Linked DNA regions of Homo sapiens: region 2 is reported to be linked to region 1. The links are microRNA targets in miRTarBase. Many come from high-throughput screens and were not tested one by one. Region 1 holds a microRNA gene; the other region holds the end of a gene's coding sequence.
Evidence for each region. The annotated mature microRNA hsa-miR-1225-3p reads UGAGCCCCUGUGCCGCCCCCAG and lies in region 1 at 2,277-2,298, opposite strand. An mRNA with a match to its seed (bases 2 to 7 or 8) in the 3' UTR can be bound and repressed. Matches are read on the target gene's strand: a 7mer-m8 pairs with bases 2 to 8, a 7mer-A1 pairs with bases 2 to 7 and ends in A, and an 8mer does both.

Region 1 (8,211 bases):
GGTGTCCCTGCAGTGCAGGAAAGGTAGGGCCGGGTGGGGCCCTGCAGTGCAGGAAAGGTAGGGCCGGGTGGGGCCCTGCAGTGTGGCGCCAAGAGCCCTGGGCCTGGCGTGACCACCAAGTCTCCCCAGACATGGAGGGCCTTGTGGACACCAGCGTGGCCAAGATCGTGTCTGACCGCAACCTGCCCTTCGTGGCCCGCCAGATGGCCCTGCACGCAAATGTGAGTGGGGGTGGGTCCAGGCGTGAGCTGGTGGGACAGGCCCAGGTGCCACCTGATAGTGAGCTCACCCCCTGCCTACGTCCCCAGATGGCCTCACAGGTGCATCATAGCCGCTCCAACCCCACCGATATCTACCCCTCCAAGTGGATTGCCCGGCTCCGCCACATCAAGCGGCTCCGCCAGCGGGTAGGGAATATGGGGCTCCCTCAGCGGGGTGTGCTGGCTGCCCAAGCTGTGGGGCGGGTGTGTGGGCAGAGCGGTTGCCACGCCTCCCAGACTTACTGCCCAAGCCGCCTCTGCCTTCAGATCTGCGAGGAAGCCGCCTACTCCAACCCCAGCCTACCTCTGGTGCACCCTCCGTCCCATAGCAAAGCCCCTGCACAGACTCCAGCCGAGCCCACACCTGGCTATGAGGTGGGCCAGCGGAAGCGCCTCATCTCCTCGGTGGAGGACTTCACCGAGTTTGTGTGAGGCCGGGGCCCTCCCTCCTGCACTGGCCTTGGACGGTATTGCCTGTCAGTGAAATAAATAAAGTCCTGACCCCAGTGCACAGACATAGAGGCACAGATTGCAGTCAGACAGCTCTTTTATTGACTTTGTCTGCTTGGTGCGGGGGTTGGGGGGGTGTCGAGGCTCTAGAAGCGGCCATGCCCACAGAAGTGGTACACAGAAGCAGGCACAGCCAGCTCCGAGGGCCTTGAGGCTGCCTGGGCCATACAGCACACTCGCGCGTGCGCGCGCGCACACACACACACACACAGTCACCTTCCTCCACCCTGGGAGCCAGCCCCCAGGAGGAGTCTTTTCCTCTAACCACCCTGGGGTCCTCTGACATGCCTAGTCCTGCTACTTGCCCAGACCTGATGCCAGCAGGCCTGGGCGCTGCTCTCTTGCTACCTGGCCTGGGGCAAGGGAGGATGACAAGGCCTCTGGGGTGATGAGAGTGCCTGGCAGACAGCTGTGCCCCCAGCACCGGCCCAAGGCCAAGCTCGCATCCAAGCAGCAGCCGGGCTGCCATAACGCCACCACACCTACCAAGCGCAGCAGGTGTTGGGGGAGGCCAGCTCTGGGCGCAGGCCCCTCAGCCCTAGTGAAAATAGTGACATACAAAAATATACACATTTTAACACCATATAAATTACTGACACGAGACACACAGTGAGACGGTGCAGGGAGTACGGTAGGAACTGGAGAGGTAATAACTTAGGGGCAGGGTGGCGGCGGTGCAGGCTAACCCTCCCTGAAGCCAGCAGCCTTAGCAGTGGGGGACATCTGCCCAGGGGGTGGGGCCGGGCACAGCCCGCTGTACCTGAGGACTCGGGGAAATAAATTAGCATCTCAGAGGCTAGAAACCGTCCAATACTGCTGTGTCCTTCCCAAGGGAGCTGGGGAGGGGACCCTGGGTCCTGGTTGGCCACACAGCCTCTTTAAAGTGCTGAAGCCCACAGACAGACAGATGCCCCTGCCTGCTCTCTGGGGAACCTACGTGCAGCCATTCTGCCTGGCCCTCGGCCTTGACAGCGGCAGAAAGTAATACTGAGCGGTGTCCACTCCGACTCCACGGCCCACCCCCGCCAGGAAGGAGGACTAAGTGCTGCTGGGGTGGACCTTGTTCTTGGCCCGAAGGGGTGTCCTGCTGGGGCCAGTGGCCAGGTCCACACCCCGACTGGCCCGGGCAAGGCGGCTGGGCAGTGCTGGCCGCAGGCCCGGGGATGGGCCACGGGAAGATCCGGCGGGCGCCCGGCTGCTCCTGCGGCCTTGCAGGCTGTGCAGCTGCTGCTCCAGCTGGTAGACGTCCTCTGTGGCCTGGTTGAGTCGGTCAAACTGGGTGAGCAGGGCCTCGAACACGGCTTGGAGGCGGGAGGGCTCAGGCTCACACCTTGTCCCCAGCCGGCCCAGGCTCACGCTCAGCCCATCCAGCTGGCTGGAGGAGGTGGAGGGGTGCGAGGCATCGGAGCCAGCGCTGGGTGGGGGCACATCCGGGGATACCTTGGAGCCCCTGGAGGAGCGAGAGGGCAGCGGCTCCATCCCTTCAAAGCGGACTTTGTGGCGGAACTGGGGGCGGCACAGGGGCTCAGTCAGTCCGGCTGCACCCTGGGCAGAGCCCAGGGCGTGTCCCTCTCCCCCCCACTGGGCCGTACCCACCTCCTTGACCTTGCTGAGGCCCATCCAGAGGCGCAGCCTGCGCAGGAACAACTCCACCATCTCGTAGTCCTGGGGCTCCCAGGCCGGCCGGTACAGCTCTCCACGCAAGGCGTGGTAGCGCCAGCGGAGAATAACAGCCCCCAGCCGTAGGGCGCCCCACAGCCGCAGTGCCCAGAGCCCCACACACAGCAGGGGTGACAGGTGCCAGGACTCGGCAGGACACAGGGTAGAGAGCCCAGTCCCAGGGCACAGCACCAACAGGGCCTGGGCCACGCTCCAGAGGGAGTCCACACAGGAAGACACGAGCTGCGGGGAAGGCGACACCAGTGAGGGCGTACAGCTGAGCTGAGCTGAGCTAAGACGCCCTCCCCGGCCGCGCAGTCACCTACCAGGATGGCCAGCTGGGCGTAGGCTACCCCGAGCACCACCAGGCCCAAGGTGACCCCCAGGAGCTCTGGCAGAGCTCGGCATAATGTCTTGCCAAAGACGGACCACTGGCGCACGAAGCGTAGCTGCTGGGCAGCCTGCGGACGAGAAATCTGTCTGCTTGCAGCCCTGGGGTGTGCGCCCAGCCCCGCGCCCACCGGCCCAGCCCTCACCTTGACCAAAAGCAGGAAGAGCAGCGAGGCCGCCAGGCCACGGGCTGCGGAGCTCAGCTGCGCCACCTGGTCGAAGCTAGTGAAGCGGCGCGGGCGGCCGCGCACGAAACGGGTCCACTGGCGGTCAGCGGCACCCAGCTGGGCGAGGCGTACCAGTGCCGTGGCCGCCGTCAGCGCCACCAGCAGCCACCGCGCCCAGGCTCCGAGCCGCAGCACGCGCCAGCGCCCTTCCCTGTGCCAAGTACGGGCCTCGGCCACGGCGAAGTGCACGGCGAACAGCAGCAGGCACACCTGTGGGGGGCGCGGTCAGGAGGGCGGGAGGGACGCTGCCGGGGCGGGGCCCTGCGAGGGGGCGGGACGCTGCCGGGGCGGGGCCCTACGAGGGGGCGGGACGCTGCCGGGGCGGGGCCCTGCGAGGGGGCGGGACGCTGCGAGGGGGCGGGGCGCTGCGAGGGGTGAGACGCTGCCGGGGCGGGGCCCCGCGAGGGGGCGGGACGCTGCCGGTGGGAGGCGCGGGGTCTGGCCGGGGACGGGCGTACCGAGGTGAGCAGAGGCAGCGAGAGGCCCGCGCTGAGGCGGCGCAGCGCAAAGGGGCGGACGCTGAGGGCGGCCAGGGCGCGGCCGGCCGCCGGGAACTCGAGGCGCAGCGTGACGGCGGCGTGCAGCCCCACGGCCGGGCTGTAGCGCGTGAGCTCCAGGAACACAGCGCGGCTCCTGCGCAGAGGGTGCGGGTCAGTAGGAGCGGGTGGCAGGGCGGGAGCTGCGGGGACCGCGCAGTGCAGGCGTGGCTGAGGGGCTGTGGAAGCCGCCTAGGCCAGCGGGGGCCGGAGGAGTGAGGGTGGGCTCCTGGCTGGTGACTGCGGCCACCCCGGAGAGGGCAGGGGAGGGAGCTCCCACCTGTTGTCCAGCCAGTTGTGCAGCTGCAGGAAGCGCAGCCGGTCGCGGCTCTCCTCCAGGCTCAGGCCCAGCTCCTGCACGTAGCCCCCGCTGTCATACACGGCACAGGAGCCCCAGGACCATGCCCTGCCGGAGAGGGGTGGCGTGGGTGCCGCACCCCAGCCCTTCCGGCACCCCGGAGCCAGGCTGGTCAGGAGGCCGCGGCACTCCTGGAGAACTACTCCCTTGTCCTTGGCGTAGACGCCCGGGGCCCTCGCTCTGCTCACCCCAGCAGATCCGGCGCTGAATAGGCCCACGTCCCCGAGCCATTGTGAGGACTCTCCCAGCCAACGTCGTAATCGCTGGTGCTGAAGCCTCCTGCGGCCGAGCACGTGTGGACCCTGGGGCCGGGAGGGTCTGGGTAGAGTGCTGAAACACACAGAGCCCCAGGCCGGGGCCAGGGCCTCATCAAAACCCAACAGGAGTGTTTCCTGCTGGCCAGCTCGCCTGAGCTCTGGTTCGGCGCCACCCCAGGGAACCCTCCCAGCAGCCATCAATTAGACAACGTTACCATCTCTCATATACAGAGAAGGAAACGGCGGTGTTAAGAGGGCAAAGGTCACACAGCTAGGGAGCAGGGCTGATGCCAGAGCTCCGCTAAAGGCTGCTCTCTCAACAAGAGGAACGATTTAAGTCTTGGGGCACGCCCTGCCAGCTCACCTTCCTGCAGCCGCACCTGCCGCAGCCGTGGGGGCCCCAGCTCTGGGCTGGACTGGTTCCCGTGGACGTAGGGCAGCAGCACGTGGGCCATCCATGGCCAGAGCTCCTCAGACCTGCCACAGCATCAGTCACACGCTCCAGCCCCTACTGCCCCATGCCCGCCTCGAGTGAGCGGCCACCAGAGACCCAGGGAACATGGCTCCCACTGCCCTGCTGGCCACGGCTAGACCTGGGCTTCTCAGCCTTATCCTGGGGATGTTCTGGGGCAGACAGTTGTCTGTCATGGGCCCGTCCTGTGCACTGCAAGACACGGACCTGTGTCCCTCCCCTCTGCCTACTGATGCCAGCAGCACCTACCTCCAGTTCTAGCAGCCACAAAGGTATCTACACATGTCCACATGTCCCCTAGGGTCTGGCTGGACTAAAGGCAAAACTAAAGCCCAGAAGACAGACCAGTGCACCGGATGCCCGTACCGCGTGATGGCCAGGAAGGCCCGGCTGTGCAGCTCCTGCTTGATGGCGCTTTGCAGACGGTAGGCGTGCCCATGGCATGAGGCATCCCCATAGCTGGCCAGCAGGGTCACCAGCAGAAAAAGCATGTACACCAGGAGGCTCTGGTGGACGGGGGGGCCCTGTGGTCAGCCTGGCCCCAGCCCACAGTGACAGCAGGGCTTTGGCAACGGCTGGAGCCATGGCTGCGGCAGGTGTGGCTGCAGGAAGGTGAGCTGGCAGGGGGCGCCCCAAGACTCTACCTGGCCAGGGTAATGGCAGCACACACCCTGCCCGGAACCCCACCTGGGGGCAGACACACAGGCCACTGCAGTGGTGCTTAGGGGCCTTCAGGGCCAGGCAGGAGTGGGCATTGGAGCTGGGCCCTGGCAGGGACTGGGGCAGCAAGTGGGGGGCGTGGGGTAGGAGGGAGACCGGGCAAAGGCTGCAGAGCATTGAACCCCTAAGGGCCTTCTGAGGTGAGGAAAGGGGGACAGGAGTGTCCTGCGTGCATGGGTGGGAGGTGGGAGACAAGAGACGGAGGTGGCAGGGGCACAGGCCGCACCCAGGCTCACCCGCAGCATGCCATGTAGCCTCTTGACCTTGCGGGCTTCTTCCTTGGCCAGGAAGAGTGCAAAGCCGTGGGGTGGCCGTACGCGGGGCACACGTGCGCTCACAGGCGTCACAGCCGGGCTCTCTACCAGGGTGTCATCTTCATCCGGGTGCAGCCGCTTGGCCACCAGTGAGAAGTACAGGGCTTCCAGCAAGACCTGGGGAGGGGGTGGCTTCAGAGGGGTCCCCCGTGATGGAGGCCTGTAGCCTACCCCTGGCAGCCCCCTCACCTTCAGTGGCTCCCAGCCGAGGAATGAGGCCAGGAAGCTGGCGCTGCTGGACAGGAGCCACGCAACACTCACGCCCGGGGGGAAGCTCGCACCCACCCACCCTGAGACAGCCACAGCCACAGCCACCAGGAGCAGGCTGAGCCCGTGGGCCAGGGAGGCACACCAGGCCGGCAGCAGGCGCTTCCGCAGACCCTCCACCAGTCCTGGGGAAGCAGAGACAGACCTGTGAGAGGCAGCTCACAGGGAGGGGCTAGGGGCATCCCGGGGCTACGCAAGCACACCTGTCCTGGACAGCCTCGCTGCCTGGGGCTGTTCCCAGTTCAGGCCTGGGCTGGGTGGCCCCAGCTCCCCCAGCCTCTGCAGCGCCAGCGTCTCTGTCTTCTCCCCAGGAGTGCTGGACCTGAGGGACATGGTAGGCTGTGAATTCATCCCGGCCTCCAGGAGGCAGTTGCAGCCAAGCCCATGTTAACCTGGGCGGGCAGTTTCTTGAGCCTCTTGGGTCACAGGGTCCCCCCGACAAAAAGCCGGAAGACCCTACCCCAAACGAGAGTGGGAGTGGTGCTGGGAGCCAGGGAACCAAGAGCCACTCCAGGCACCGAAGTCAGGCGTCCGCCTGCGTCCCTCTCCCGCCCGCTTGCTGCTGATAAACCCATCGCCCACAGCCTGACCAGCTGCCCTTACAGCAGTGCACAGTCTCTCAGGGTGCAATGAGCCCCCCTTCAACCCTGCAAACTATGATTGGGTCTCAACCATCCAACAAGCATCTCTACAATCTAGAGACGCCAGTGTGTCTGTCCCATGCAGGTTTATGGCCTAAAATTAACTTCTGGACAAGGAAACATATGAATGCCTTTCAAATCCCAACAGTGTGTAGGGCTCCCTGAGGCCAGAGATCTGCTTGTGTCTCCAGGAGCCAGTGACCACCGAGGCTGTGCCACTGCATCGGGCCACCATGCTGATATGCCCGGTCCCAGAGCTGCTAGAGAAGAGGTACAGAGGCAGCGAAGACACGTTGAGGGGGAGGACGAGACCAACTGCGAGACGCCGAGTCCCGGGCTCTCAGGACGCTCTCCCGTACCTGCGCCCTCGTCAGCCCATCACCGAAAGAACGGCCTGACCCAGGGTCACACTGCACTGAATGCTTCCTGTTTTGCTGTCTCTCGGAGGATAAAAGACACTCTTGGCTGGGCGCAGTGTCTCAAGCCTGTAATCCCAGCACTTCAGGAGGCTGAGGCAGGAGGATCACTTGAGCTCAGGAGTTGGAGACAGTGAGACCCTGTCTTTACAAAAAATTAAAAAATGACCTAGCCTCAACTTGGTCAGGCGTGGTGGCTCACGCCTGTAATCTCAGCATTTTGGGAGGCTGAGATGGGTGGATCACGAGGTCAGGAGTTCAAGACCAGCCTGGCTAAGATGGTGAAACCTCCTCTCTACTAAAACACACACACAAAAAATTAGCCGGCTGTGGCGGCGGGCGCCTGTAATCTTAGCTACTTGGGAGGCTGAGGCAGATAACTGCTTGAACGTGGGAGGCAGACTTTGCAGTGAGCCGAGATCATGCGACTGCACTCCAGTCTGGGCAACAGAGACTCCATCTCAAAAAAATAAATAAAAATAAAAAATAACCCAGCCTCAACTATTCCTTTATAGCAACACAAATGACTCAGGGTCTGACTCAGGGAGCAGGCTCTCGCTGGCAGAGACGGAGAATGGCCAATAGGGAGGCATGGAGTGGCAGGGAATGCCAGGGCAGAGGCGCCGCCAGGACGGAGGGTGCAGGCTCAGGCGCAGGGAAGGCCGTGCTCTGCGTTGGGAAAGGAGCCACGGGACGCGCTGGAGGCTGCAGTGAGGAAGGACGCAGAGGGGTCCAGGACAAACCCAAGCCTCCGACCTGGTCAGCCCGAAGCACTGTCCGAGCAAGGGACGGCCAAGGGTTGAGGAAGCCGGGAGGGTGAGGGCCACGCGCTCTGTGTGGATGCGGAGTCTGAGCTGCCGTCAGAAATCCCCGCGGAAGCACTGAATCTGGATTTCACAGAGCTTTGGGCCGGAGATACCTGGGGCTGGTCAGCATGTAGTGACTACCCCTGGATTTCCCCATACTCTGTATTTTTAAAACCAACCAGCAATTTATTCATAAAGATGCCCTCATGTGATGGTTATCTGCCTTTTGTAAATCAGGAAGTTTTCCTTTTTGTTTGAGTCCAGGGGCAGTTCATACCTCTTTAGTTCTTGGTTGCTTAACAATGAGAAGCACTCAAAGGAATAACACACAAATCAAACTAGATGTGGATGCAAAAGCAGCAGTCACGCACCACTTAG
Region 2 (7,605 bases), not on the chromosome of region 1:
AGACCAGCCTGGCCAACATGGTGAAACCCAGTCTCTACTAAAAATGCAAAAATTAGCCAGGCGTGGTGGCGGGCGCCTGTAATCCCAGCTACTCTGGAGGCTGAGGGAGGAGAATCATTTGAAACTGGAAGGTGGAGGTTGCAGTGAGCTGAGATCATGCCACTGCACTCCAGCCTAGGCAACAAGAGTAAAACTCCATCTCAAAAAAAAAAAGAAAAAGAAAAAGAAAAGCCAACCTACCTAACATATGAAATTGCATTTTAAAAAACAACAAAAACAAAACAAAAACAAACAAAAAAGAAATTGTATCAAATAGATGAGCCAGAAAGAAATTTATCTCATATAAAGGTAAGTAATACTTGAAAATAAACCTGCACAGTGTTCATGCACAAACACTTCAAGAAAAGGAGAAATGGAACAAGCAGAAACAATTAGCAGATAAAAACCACTCAACAGGAAAGAATGAATCAGCTGAGCACATGAAAAATGTGACCAAATATACTGTCATAACTCAAAGAACTTAAGGAAATAGAGTTCATAAAGAAATGTAGTTGATCAGAAACACCATAGCAAAACAACCAAAGGAAATGCAACATAAGCTAACAAAGTTCAGAAAAGAAATGAAAAGGAAAAAATAATCAACCAAAACTGTGCAGTAGAGGAAAAAATACACTAATTGGATATTGTTCACAGCAAGGAGTCAACAGATAGGATCTATATATATATATATATAGACTTTAAAATTAAATATAATTCAAAATCATAGTGAAGGAAAAAACCATTAGCACAACAAGTGAACTATAGCAAATGTGAATAACATAATGCAAGTGTAGTATACAGCATACATTGCTGATTATGTATCCATTATCCATGCCCTCACTATCCAAAATGATGATTTTGGTCATATATCCTTCTTTTCCACAGAATCATGTGCTTTAGGGCAGTGGTTCTTAACTAGGGTCAATTCTTCCCTCACAAAAGACATTTACTAATGTCTGGAGACATTTTTGACTGCCACAGTTTGGAGGCGATGCTGCTGGCATTTAGGGTGAGGAGATATGTTCCAGGCCAAAGTCTGATGTGTGATCTTTCAGGCCTGACCATAAGCAATTACAAAGGCTTTGCCTGACAGGCTTTGTAGGGGAAAGGTGCCCTTCCCACATGAGATTTAAACACAGCCAGTCTCTGGAGGGAGTTGTATCTGGTGCTCAGGACCCCCTGGGCTGGCCATGTCTATAAACCTAGCTGCATTCCTAGACCAGGTACCTCCATGCTGAGTCTTCCTTATCAGGGGGCCTTGGTTGAGACACTTTTCAGGTGCCTCCACAGAGACCTCGCTATTGGTGGGCCTTGACTGAGACACTCATCTCCACTCTGACTCAGTTGTTTTCTACTTCTAACCCTTCCCTGCTCCCTGTCCGCAGTCCTTGAGGTCCATAAGATGGCAGGAACCTTTTGTTCATTGCTCCTTAGCAGTGAAACAATTTCCTCTGCCTGGACTGCATGTCGTCTGATTGACGCATGTCCAGTGCTAGTCCATGGTAGGGGAAAAATGGAACAACAAGGAGCTGGCCCTACTTTCCTTTTTGGTCTCTTGCTTATAATTTTATCATAGTAAGTGAATAAAGATGTGATTGTTATTTTCATTTCAGCTACTTACCTTAACTGACTCTCAACACTTCACAGCTAGGTACAGAGATCCTACTAGACATGCTGCTATGCATGGAACAGCTTCCTATGATGTAGAATTTTATGGTCCAAAATGTCAACAGTGCTGAGGCTTTTCGGAAAAACTGACTCCATCATCTGCTCTAGGGTCAGTAAGGTCATGGGAATCTCCTGGAGTATTCTATTTATCTAGGGGTGAGTAGATGATCAAAGAAGTTGGCTCAATCACACTGAAGTAGATGGCTTAATATTAATATTCCAGGATTGGGACAGAACTTCCCTCAATTTTTATTGTGTTGGACATGAACAAAAAAAATATGTAGTCCTCACTGAAACCGACAGCAATTATTGTTAACACGAGAGAAAACAACTTTGGGATAAAGTTTATACTATGCCAGAGGTGACAAGGGAGGTCACTTGGGCTTTTGATGACAATATGGCTAATGCAACTGTGGCTGAAGCCAACCCCACCTTTGGACCTTCAGAAATGTGTAATAATACATTTTCTGATGATTTAAACCAGTTTCAATTGGAATTTTCCTACTTGCAGTGGAAAGTATTGTTACAGAAAGACAAAAGAATTTTAAAGCAATAAAAAAAGCAAGCACAATCTAAAAGCAAAGATACATTACATAAAACAGACTACACTAATCTATTAAGTAAAAGGGATCTTAAAATTGAATCACAAAGCAAAACCCAATATATACTATATTAAATAACCTAAAACAAAGTGACACAAATACCAAAAAGTAAAAAGATGAATATCAGGCAAATGCAAGCCAAAATAAAGCATAGGTCATAATCTTAATATCTGACAATTTATAGAACAAAAAGTATCCAATGGACAAAAAGGACATTTTAATAATGATAAGGTAAAACCTATAATGAAAATCTAGCATTCATGAATTTATATGCACCAGAAAACATACCCACATACTATATAAAAAGTAAAGTAAAAACCATTGATAATAAAAGGAGAAATTGACAGTGATCCCTAAGCGAAAAGATGTTTTTCTCACAATCCATGACAAAGCACATGAACCAAAAGAAAAGCAGTTTATAAAAATCTCAATGAGATATCATCTTACAAATGAGATACCATCTCACGCCAGTTAGAATGGCGATCATTGAAAAGTCAGGAAACAACAGATGCTGGAGAGGATGTGGAGAAATAGGAACACTTGGTGGGAGTGTAAATTAGTTCAACCATTGTGGAAGACAGTGTGGCGATTCCTCAAGGATCTAGAACTAGAAATACCATTTGACCCAGCCATCCCATTACTGGGTATATACCCAAAGGATTATAAATCATGCCACTATAAAGACACATGCACACGTATGTTTATTGTGGCACTATTCACAATAGCAAAGACTTGGGACCAACCCAGATGTCCATCAATGATAGACTGGATTAAGAAAATGTGGCACATATACACCATGGAATACTATGCAGCCAAAAAAAAGGATGACAAGGACATGGATGAAGCTGGAAACCATCATTCTCAGCAAACTATCACAAGGACAGAAAACCAAACACCGCATGTTCTCACTCATAAGAGGGAACTGAACAATGAGAACAGTACTTGGACACAGGGCGGGGAACATCACACACTGGGCCTGTCAGTGGGTGGGGGGCTGGGGGAGGGATAGCATTAGGAGAAATACCTAATGTAAATGATGAGTTCATGGGTGCAGCAAACCAACATGGCACATGTATACCTATGTAACAAACCTGCACATTGTGCACATGTACCCTAGAACTTACAGTATTAAAAAAAAAACTCAGTAATATATTTAGTTAAGGAGCTATAATTCACATAGATTATATAGTACACAATACTAAATAGATTTTTTAATGTGCTCTGTTCTCTGAAAATAGAAATTAGATCTTCCACAAAAATTGACCTATATAAACAACACTTTACACAGTAATATTTTGGTACCTACGATTATGTACAGAGGGAAACCTGTTTCTATGTGGACTCCAATCACAAATGACTCCTTCTGAAGGAGTGTAAAAATTATTCCCATGAGCTGGGTGTGGTGGCACGCACCTATAGTACCAGCTATTTAGGAGGCTGAAGCAGAAAGATTTCTTGAGCCCAGGAGTTCAAGGCTGTAGTGAATTAAGACTGTGCCACTGCACTCCAGCTGGGGTGACAGAATGAGACCTTGTCTAAAAAAGAAAAATGTTCCCACTGGCAAGAATTCTGTTGTTTTGATATCTCCCAACACAGGAAAAGAGAATTAGAGAGGGGCTAAAACTGCTGGGCCACTCTAAGAGAAGAGATCCCAACCCCAACTAAGAATATAGGCAGTCTACACTGTCCAGATAGTAAGGCAAGGATAAAATGATGTAAAGTTAATAAACACTGTACACTATGTGTAAAGCAAATTCTTATAAATACACAAAGACTGAGAAATTTCTACCAAAGTATGAATACAAAACAAAAATGTGAAATCTTGGTTCAAACTGGCATGGCACTAGTTAACAGTGGACATTTAGGTCAGACAGAGTCAACCCAAAAAGAAATCCGGGTGAAAACAGAAACTTTTTCCTTGGCTAGTGAGTTTTAATTGGATATTTCTTGAAGAACTTTAACTTTTCTCTCATAATTTCCATCTATTGCCTTTGTGCTCTATGTTTATGCTAAGCACACTGCCACATGTTTTTGTTACTTTACTGTATTCCCTTCAGCCTCTATATCTTGTCTATCACTGACATAAGGTGTTCAGCACACTTTTCTTCACCCAAAATTGCTGTACCACGCCCCCCAAATTTGCTAGTATTTGAGAATGGACTACGTAACTCATTTAAACCAGGGCAGCAGAATCTGCCAGCACTAGACTTCAAGGGCTAAGTTAGGTCTGAGCCTATTATATGGCTTTTAAGGGTGAAGGAACTGAATAATACATTATGAAGATTAATATCTCAGGGTGACTAGACAATTCTTCATGCTGGGCTAGTTCACCTCTTTGGGATGGAGGACTGGGCTCTAAGAAGAAATATCTTCTAGTATTTAAAACCAAAAAATCCCACATCTTCTCAGGACAGAATCAAGTGAGAAACAGATGCTTCAGTCAAACTGCCACTAAACAGTGATAACTATAACATTTTGCTCTGATACAGTAGACTTTTTATTTGTTTTGGAAAGTGATTCTAAGATTTTTACAAATAGAGTGTCTAGTCTACAGAGCAATACTACTGAGTTTGGTGACTACAGGAAAGTAATAGTTCTTGCATAACAATGGAAAAAGTTAGTTGTACTGTACTTTCTAGTTTGGAAAGTAATATATTGCTATGTATATAGCCAATAATAAATTTTATTTAATATGTAAGTACTAGTTAATAAAAAAATTCCTGATTTTTTCTACTTTGAAAACTAAAAAGTAAGAGATAAGAAAATTTTAAAAATTTACCATTTAAGTCTCTTTGATTCTGGAAATATTTTAATTAGGTTCCACTTTAAAAAAAAAGTAGCTTCCTTATGACCTCCACAGTGAGTACATTAACTACATTTTCACAAACAGAAAACTTACATACATTCAACTGTTTACAAGACATGTCTCCATATAACACATTTACATTCATGTGAAATCTATGAACTTCTTTAATTGCATATATTTATGACTCTTACATCTGGTACCTTTTAAAACAGCTAACATATAGTATGCTTATTTCCTATAAGTTAATTAATATATGACTATTTAAGGTGAGAAGAGTCTCATTTGAAGAATTACAATAGTTATATTCATACCATGGGAAATCAATAGTTTTTCTAAACATAAATTTCAAGCTAAAGCTTTAGCAATTTAAGTTATTTAACTACCAATGCATGAAATTCTTATCAGATTGTCCCATTTGGATTACAGTTTAAGTCATTTCAAGCTGTTCACAATTATTTGTGCATTGGTGGGGGGGAAAGCACCAAGGATAATAAATTGATTTTTCACATCACAGATGAAATCACAGCGCAATGATTTCAATATCCCTTCAAAAATCTAATCATTTATAAAGAGCATTTATTTCAAATGCTCAATCTTTAAGCTTTCTTAGTGTGATCAACTGATACACTAGGGATAAGAATGGAAATGGTTAAAAACAGATGCTATACATAATACTTACTAACTTAACAGAATTCAGATTTCTCCTAACATTGTTGATTTCCATTTTTGAACTGACTTCTTTAGATCTAAAAAGAACTCTGAAAGTAAGTGTAACATTTATACACTTGTCAACTATACTTAAAAAGAAACTCTGAAGGTGCCTTTCTTGTCAAAATACAAAACAAAAGTTTTCCTGATGAACAAGGCACCTTGTATGGTAAGGAAATATATAAAGAAAATATTTTCTACAAATTAATATATAAATCTATGTGCACAAAGGTGTAGTTCTCCCAGCTGCATATGTAATATTTTAAATAACACACAATAAAAAAATTCAAAACACAGATTGAAAAAATAACCCATGTGGCTAATACTCCAGTTGTTAAATATTGCAGCATATATGTCACTGTAACAATTGGGAAAGATATTCTAATCTAAACGGTTAATGAAATCTCTTTGGAAAGACACTTTAAAAGTCCCCAATATGTAACCCTGGCTGTCAAATTTCAATCTAGAAGTTTTAACAGCTAAGATGCAATCCCATGAAAATAAAAGTGTGCACAAAGGCCAGCTCATCAGACTCTGCAGTACATAGCATTACTGCTGTGACTTTGGTACGAGCCTGCTGGGCTTTTATGTTCCTTTTCATTACTATGTGCACATGGTAAACATCATATTAACAACAATCGATTTTTATCACTATAAGTTTTGCTGCTCACAGAATGCTAACAAACATTGTTTTAAACATTTCCAGATCATGACAACAGTTCCTTACCTGAACATAAACAAAGAAAACCTTAGATTTAAAAACATTTTTAAGTGAACACATAAATGCATAAGGAGAAACATAAGAACATACTATTTTTATAAGTATAAAAAGTTCCAGCTTCTGCTAAGATTTCATTTCTTTTTCCCAGTGTTTTTTTTGTGTTCATGCGTTTCTGTTTTGCTAGTTATATTCTTTTTCCGAGATGAGGTATTAGGAACAACTGCACTAGAAGGTCCACTTGTAGCTACATAAAACAAAAACAAAAAAAAAAAACTATTGCTTAAATTTACACAAACAATCCAAGTTCAAATAATACTGCTGATTGACAAAACAATTCTTGTTATAATTGTGATGTAAATGAAATGTAAAAATTTAATATAGCATTTTTAACCTTTTACTTTTCAGAATTCAACACAAATATAGAAAGGTAATGACAATGGGCTGTGTTCACAAAATTAATTTCTCATTTTACTCTACATGCTTCCTAGGAAATGAATATATTTTCATAATTTTTAACTACCATCCATTGTGCTAATGATTTTTAAATTTATACTTCTGGCCTGGGCCTTTTCCTTTAGCTCAAGATATGTATATACAACTGCCAATTGAAACTTTCTTTAAAGATATCTGACGAGAAAGACAAACTTAATATGCATAAACTGAACTCATCATTTTCTCTACAAGCATCTATTTCCTCTTGTATCTTCTATCTTATCCCTCTCTAAAAAGCTAGAAGGTAAGAAAACTAGAAGCACGCTTGACTTAGGAATCATCCTTCTGTGTCTAAACCAACATGAAGTCTTCATGAATTATCAAAAAACTATTCTAGGCCAGGCAGGGTGATTCATGCCTGTAATCCCAACACTTTGGAGGGCCAACGTGGGAGGATCGCTTGAGCCCAGAAGTTCAAGACGAGCCCTGGCAACATAGTGAGACCCCCTTCTCTACAAAAAACTTTAAAAATTAGCTGGGTGTGGTGGCACACACTTATAGTCTCAGCTACTCAGGAGGCCAACGTAGGAAGATTGCTTGAGCCTGATAGGTTGAGGCTGCAGTGAGCC

Region 2: the mRNA of PPIP5K2 is a reported target of hsa-miR-1225-3p. Seed matches in the 3' UTR shown: 7mer-A1 at 3,766-3,772.

Annotation. Positions count from the first base shown.
Region 1 is chr16:2,087,919-2,096,129 of GRCh38, forward strand. MIR1225 (microRNA 1225) reads right to left here and starts at 2,366; the gene lies at 2,277-2,366. TSC2 (TSC complex subunit 2) reads left to right here. Exons shown (of 42, transcript NM_000548.5): 39 at 1-23; 40 at 130-221; 41 at 309-407; 42 at 528-1,573. The coding sequence ends at 692. It overlaps PKD1 (polycystin 1, transient receptor potential channel interacting), which reads right to left. Exons shown (of 46, transcript NM_001009944.3): 35 at 6,174-6,292; 36 at 5,893-6,095; 37 at 5,626-5,820; 38 at 5,036-5,175; 39 at 4,562-4,674; 40 at 4,129-4,270; 41 at 3,863-3,988; 42 at 3,505-3,679; 43 at 2,966-3,256; 44 at 2,756-2,890; 45 at 2,367-2,672; 46 at 790-2,276. The coding sequence ends at 1,809. It overlaps PKD1-AS1 (PKD1 antisense RNA 1), which reads left to right and starts at 3,518. Exons shown (of 3, transcript NR_135175.1): 1 at 3,518-3,696; 2 at 4,971-5,094; 3 at 6,803-7,099.
Region 2 is chr5:103,200,705-103,208,309 of GRCh38, reverse strand. PPIP5K2 (diphosphoinositol pentakisphosphate kinase 2) reads right to left here. Exons shown (of 31, transcript NM_001276277.3): 31 at 1-6,788. The coding sequence ends at 6,676. Among named protein-coding and RNA genes, the nearest start is that of MACIR, 54 kb to the left of the region's middle.